2 linked regions of the Homo sapiens genome follow. The protein of the gene in region 2 purifies or fractionates together with the protein of the main gene of each other region. This does not show direct contact. Each region holds a gene or a part of one and is shown on either strand. Other genes may lie near its edges.

Region 1 (3,183 bases), on a different chromosome or scaffold from region 2:
AAGTTTCACCAGATTTTCTTCCCTCAGCACCTCACTAGGGCTGCCCAGTGAGTGAAGGAGTAAGTGGGAATCTTCTCTTCTCCAGCTTTGCCCTGAAAAGATGAAGTCTTCCCTCTAAAAAGAGGAGTTGTTCCTAAACAGGGTATATTCCTTTCCCAGATGCTTCTACAACAAAGTGTCACTAAGTGCTTAACTTTGTCTTTGTCAACCAACATTAACTACAAAGGGAACTGCTGTTTTAAAAGTCATAGTTTTGCTTCTTAGGCATGAGAATAACATAGGACTTTGGATAGAGAGAAATCAAAGGCTTTTAAAGATGCAGACAGACTGTCTGCTGAGAAGATGTTTCCTCTAAGTAGTATAGAGACAAAGCTCATTTAATTCCATCACATTCTTTCTAAAAGAGAATTTATGGCACATTATCTACCCTCTATTTGAGAATAGGTTTCCAAGGCTTGATAGTGACTTTTGTAGACAGGGAAAAGAAAATTCATTTTCAATTCATCTACATTATAGTTTTATCGAGAAAAAGTAGATTTCAAGTTTAAACCAACAAATAAACTGAGGCTGCTATCACACTCTAAGGAATTTACCTTAATGTAGAAAACTCATGAAAATCAAAAATACACATTGTACCTAATGTAATATCCATCGCACATATCTGCCAGTCAACTCAGTCTCAATGATGATCCTCTGATGAAAGGCCGCTGTACCATAAGATAGAGTTCACTAAAAGTGGTGTGTTAAAACATTTTATGCCTTAGAGATACATTTTATTTGTACTAGACACATATTTGACTATATATACACTGGTATGGGATGAGCAGACCTTTGTCTGCATAACATTTGGCTCCACACATAGGTTTTATTGTTAACTAGGTAAAACAGAAGTTATTTTTATAAATTATATGCAGAGTATTTATCATTGTATAGAATTGTATATACTCATAGAAAGCTGAAAGCTGTTATTACTGGATTATGAACTCAAAACCTATGATCCAGACATATTGGCTTCAAGCTAAAATGATTTTTTAAATATCTATTTCAGAAAATTTTATATTCATTCATTTTTAATCCTGTGAGTTATCCACCATTTCTTGACAACCAAGGAGTGAGTGCTGAGATCACATAGCAGCTTCTTATCTAATAGAATACCATTGTATATGAACCAGTAAAAACACCAGGAATGGGAATAATGACAAATATCTAAGTAAGTTGTGAAATCTAAGTACCTATTATAGGTGTTTTTAAGAACTCTTTGTAAGTGAATGCTAGAAGTAGACAAATTATTTAGTGGAAAATCCTATGTTCACATCAGTAAAATATTGCAGGCCAGAGATATCTTTTGATTTCTAATCTATTGTTTTATGTATTTTATATACAAAGTACAGAAATTTCACAAGAAGTCAAACACAGTGATGCCATTTGCTATGTTTTATTTTGCTAGTAGCTTATTAAACATAACATGCAAATAATCAAAGAGAAACATACATGACTTAGAGTGAAAAATAATTCTAGAAAAGTTTCACTAGGTAAGTATGCAAATTCTTATTCTAAAAATACTTCTTTAAGTGCATGAAGCTTCATGTATTTTGCAATATTCTTGGCCTCAATATCTACCACCTATTTTTTAACCAGACAAATTTGAATGTATCAAGATAATTTGGTGCAAGAGAGTAACATCCATATGTATTTAATCCAAGCTTTGAGGAACATTAAGATTTAAGGATTATAAAACTTGGCTGATTTCCATGCAACCAGTAAAAGGTTTTGCACATCATTTGACAGTAGAAATAAAAAAACACTAAATTTACAAATAAAGCATTGAGTTTGATGTCTATTCGTGTATATGTGTGTGTTCTTGTGATGAAATAGGCCTGCCTTTCATCTTTTCTTTAAAAAAAATAAATGTTTACAAAACATTTCCCTCAGATTTTAAAATTCATGGAAGTAATAAACAGTAATAAAATATGGATACTATGAAAACTGACACACAGAAAAACATAACCATAAAATATTGTTCCAGGATACAGATATTAATTAAGAGTGACTTCGTTAGCAACACGTAGACATTCATACATATCCGGTGGAAGACTGGTTTCTGAGATGCGATTGCCATCCAAACGCAAATGCTTGATCTTGGAGTAGGATAATGGCCCCAGGATCTTGCAGAAGCTCTTTATGTCAAACTCTAAAAATTAAAGAATAGAAAACATTAATCATTTTTCAGTACACTGGCTCAAAACAATACAAAAAATTTATGTTTAATATATTATAAAATAGGACCTCTTCCCATTTAGAAAAGTCATAATATAGTATATGTTTGAATTTGCAACCATTAAAGGCATATTTCAGGCTACCAAAATGGCACAGTAACATTTAGTAAAGAGTAATCATGGTAGATCAAGATATTCAGTGGAATATTTTAAATAACAGAACTTATTTTATTACTAGAAGTTGTTTTTAAAAAGGCATTCAATAAGTGTGTCATATTATCTAACAACTTTTTTGAAATAGTATAACCTGAAGAAATATAAATGGATCCCATTGTTGTATGAACAATCTCAGTATAAGTACTCTTTGGTTTTACATCTAAAAATAAGAAGGGTTAACTAGATGATCTATAAAGAATTTTCTAGCAACCACATACCATGACCATGATAAAAATTCCAAGACAAAAACCAAATCATTCCAGCAATCACACACCATAGCAATGATCAAAATTCTAAGGCAAAAACCTAATCATGGCATGTCCACCATCTGAACTCATGTTTTTGTTTATTTGTTTATTTTTGTCCATGGTCAAAAAGCTGCCACAAATGAAACACTGACTTACTTTGTAATAGAAACCAAGAGTGTTACTGAATTGACTGACCTGTGTATACACAGAAACTATGTTTGCCTATGTCTATTTTAGATTAACATTTTCAAGTCCTTTATCTTGTTTTCATTTTCAAACTCTAGTTAACAAAGACTTCAGTGGAACCCCAAACACACATGCTTTTTAAAATAACTCATCAGTTAATTCCAGGGATTTTTCTATGGTACCAACATTTGAGAAAGTGAGGAAAAATGGAAAGAAGATGGGCATAGTCCCATCTTGGAATTCTACCTCTGCCACTTACCCAGGTGGGCAACACTGGAACACTTATCTGATCTTGTTAGAAATAACACATCTATCTT
Region 2 (3,500 bases):
CCCCGCCTCCCTGTCTTTGCGAGTCTCTAATGAAGAAGTAAATGCAGACCCGGTGTTGACGGCCCACGCGCTCCTGATGAGGCGCTTCCAGAGTTCAGCGAAGTGGAGCATGGAGGCCGTTCTCTTTGTGAACGCCGAGGCCGCCGCCCCGCGCCAGTCCGGCCGCCCTAGGCACGTTCCGCTCTCGCGGTTGCGTGTGGGCCGGGAGTAAGCGAAGGGCGCGGGGCTAGGCCGGCAGGGGCCAGCGCGTCTGGATTCGTCCCGCGGCCTCTTTGCCCCCGGGGTGTAAGGGTTTCGGGCCGTGGAGAGGAGGCGCTCTGACCCGCACGTCTCCACCCGCGCAGCCCATTGCACTTCAAGTCGCCCTTCTTATCCAACCCATTTCTCTCGCCCTTAGTTTTAAGGCCCAAGTTGAGCCACCTTTTGCTTTGCAAATGGCTCTTCTACCCCCAGCCTCACTAGGTTACCCTTACTCCTTTCTCACCTCTCCGAGCTGGCCAAATCGGGGCTCTACTAGGGGTGCCTTGTCAGGATTCGATCCACATTTGTGTAGGGTGGTGGGTGGAGATTCGTGTTATATCGAATAGCCCAACAATTTTAGGAACAACTGAATGGTACTCTGCTTAGCATGGAGAAGTGGGTTGAGTAGAAAGGAAGAGAAGCCACGCAGAATTCTGTTTTAGCACTTGTCATTTCATGCTATTCAGAACAGTTTAAAGTTTAAGCACGAACATGTCTTACTCAACAAAAAGGGAATGCACTTGGGTGGGTGGGGGTGAGGGGGGAGCGTAGCAATTGAATTTCAGGTCCTTGAAAAAATATACATCCTTATGAGGGATGAACAAAAAGTTTCCAGAAAATAGTTTACTGGGTGCTGACTTGTAAAATTCTATCATTGAAACAGTTTGAATACAGATTTCAAACATGATGTTGTAGAGTCAAAGGTGATATAGAGCTTACTTCTATGAAGAGCATTCAAACCGCAGCAAAGCCTGGTTTTACTTGAAGTGATTGGAACCAGGGCAAGTTTAGATCTTGACCTGAAATGCCAGAAAAGGAGATCGTGACTCCTGAAGGAAAAGTGCTGCAGAAATCTGAACAAAAATGTCAGGGCCTGAATACTATTTCCATTCTTGCCCCTGTTAGTAGTTTTCACTTTACAATCACAGCGGGGTTCCCTGAGCTGCAAATGAAGAATTAAGTTTTAATACAAACAGAATTGTTGGAAGGTAAATGCCTATGAATGCAAGTCTTTGAAGTGCAGTTGTTTTGATGGCACTAATTTTTTTCTGTGCCTTAGGAAGTTTCGCCACCATGCTACCTAAGGACAGTGTTCTGAATTTTTATAAAATTTCTTCCTGAATAGCATGAGAAAATTGGGCATTTAACCTCCTGAAGGGAACTTTTTTTTTGGGGGGGGTGCCTAACAATTATAGTAAAATAGCAGAATACCTGTGAAATTAATATACAATCCTTACAGAAACAAAAATGGAAAGGACTCTCCCATACACAAAACAAACGAAAACTTTTTTGTGATAATGTAACCACTTCATTTTCTTGTCATATGCCAGCAAGAATGAACCTTGTAAATGTGTTGAGTCATGTTAAAAATATCCTTTTAAAGGTTATCCTCTTCTCCTTCCTACATACTTTGTATACTACTTTAGTAATTGAATTAACTTTTAGTTCTGATTTACTCTAAACTTTACTTGAAGCAGGTAAACATAGAAATAAAATGGAACTTTCACTTTCTGGTTTTTCTCTTAGGGATTTAAATGGAAATAACATCACAAGAATTACGAAGACAGATTTTGCTGGTCTTAGACATCTAAGAGTTCTGTAAGTGCATCCTCTGTATTTTTAAATAATTTTTTAAGGTTGCATATTTTGAATCATTACTGGCCTCAGTTTTTATGACTATTCTGATGACAGTAACATAAAACATTTAAAAGGTCATGCTTTCCTTTTTTCTGTGTTTATCATTGTACTACAACATTTAATAAAAATTGGGGCTTTTATTTTAAGGTTGGAAGCATGCCATAGAACCAATAATCCAGAAATGACCTCAGATCTTTGTTATACCATACCCTAAGCGCTTTATGCATATAAAAATGTTGAATAATTGTTTTCACAAAATGAATAAGTAATAAGAAACATTTGATACTTTTAGGATTTGAAATTAACTAAAATATTTAAGTGGATCTGTATTTTATTATTGATAACAAAAGGATTCTTATTTTTTTGCGAAAATCTAATATCAAGCATTAAAATCAACCATTCAAATTTTCAGCAGAGTTTATAATGATACATTAGTCATATTTTGAGTTTTTATATTTTGTGTCTTTGTAGCTTCTATAAAATTGTTGCAATATGATTACTTCTTTAATTAGTGGGTTAAATTAGCTGTGAGTAAACCACCACTTGCGAGTCAATGTAATGTTAAATTGTTCTCACCCACAGGATTGTAAATATTGACATCCCAGTAGCCATACAGTTTTGACCATTGTGCATTCAGTGTTCTAAGTTTTAAGAGACACATTTTGGTCATTACAAATTATTCCAGTTGCTGATGTGTATCCATGTCAGAATTGAAGTATGTATATGATGAATTACTGTATTTTGATTCTTTGGTTAAGTTGAAAACCAGTGTATCAAAGAAAGCTATCAAAGCTTCAGTGTCAAGGATTACTCTTCAGATATACTATTAGTTTAAGGGTCAGAGTTTTGACCAGTAAATCTCATGAGAAACTGCATTTGTATTAAGTTTTGTGATGCAGACACTGCTATTTCCCTTCCATGAGTTCACTCAGATATATTATTATTAAATTTGATATTGGATCTCAAATCAGAGCACAATTTAACTTTATAAAGGGAAAGAGTTTACAAGTTTTCAGTTGCTGAATTGAAATTTATTCAGATGGTGAGTGGTAACATTAAGAAGCATGTTATATTTTGCATTTCAGTCAGCTTATGGAGAATAAGATTAGCACCATTGAAAGAGGAGCATTCCAGGATCTTAAAGAACTAGAGAGACTGTAAGTATTTTCAATTCCAAAGTTATGACAACATAACTGTGTTTTTTAAAAATACTTAAATTTCAAGCATCATGTCTTCAATTTCATGTCTTAGGGTTTGAAATTTTGCAGAAAAAGGAGGATGAATGAGTGGTTTTCAGGTTAATTTATGACAAATAGAGTTCCTGAATAAAAAGTTCTAACTTGTAATTAAGCTCAAAAATACAGTTACTTTCCTGAGACATGTATTTCCTTGATAATCATTGCTTTGGTACTTAAAGATGTACAAGCATTTCTTATTCTTCATTTGATTTGTTTTATTTGCTCATGTAGGAAGAAAGGTGGTACTTTTATTTGCGTTAATGGTGCATTAGGGAAGAGAGAAGTTTTGCTAATTGTTATTTTCATTTTCATGGTGGTGCTTTGTGTGTTATCAGTGACATTTGATGAAATATTTTATATTTTACTAATAAAGATTTACTTTTT

What was found.
Region 1: the proteins of SLIT2 (region 2) and LUM purify together in Homo sapiens (affinity purification with mass spectrometry, with the first as the bait; one large-scale study listed by BioGRID). This does not show direct contact.

The regions. Positions count from the first base shown.
Region 1 is NC_000012.12:91,102,129-91,105,311, forward strand, and holds the end of LUM (lumican precursor), read right to left. Parts: intron 2,192-3,183; coding exon 2,037-2,191; 3' UTR 501-2,036; downstream 1-500.
Region 2 is NC_000004.12:20,254,905-20,258,404, forward strand, and holds part of SLIT2 (slit homolog 2 protein isoform 1 precursor), read left to right. Parts: intron 1-1,767; coding exon 1,768-1,839; intron 1,840-2,963; coding exon 2,964-3,035; intron 3,036-3,500. UniProt on the Homo sapiens protein: Thought to act as molecular guidance cue in cellular migration, and function appears to be mediated by interaction with roundabout homolog receptors.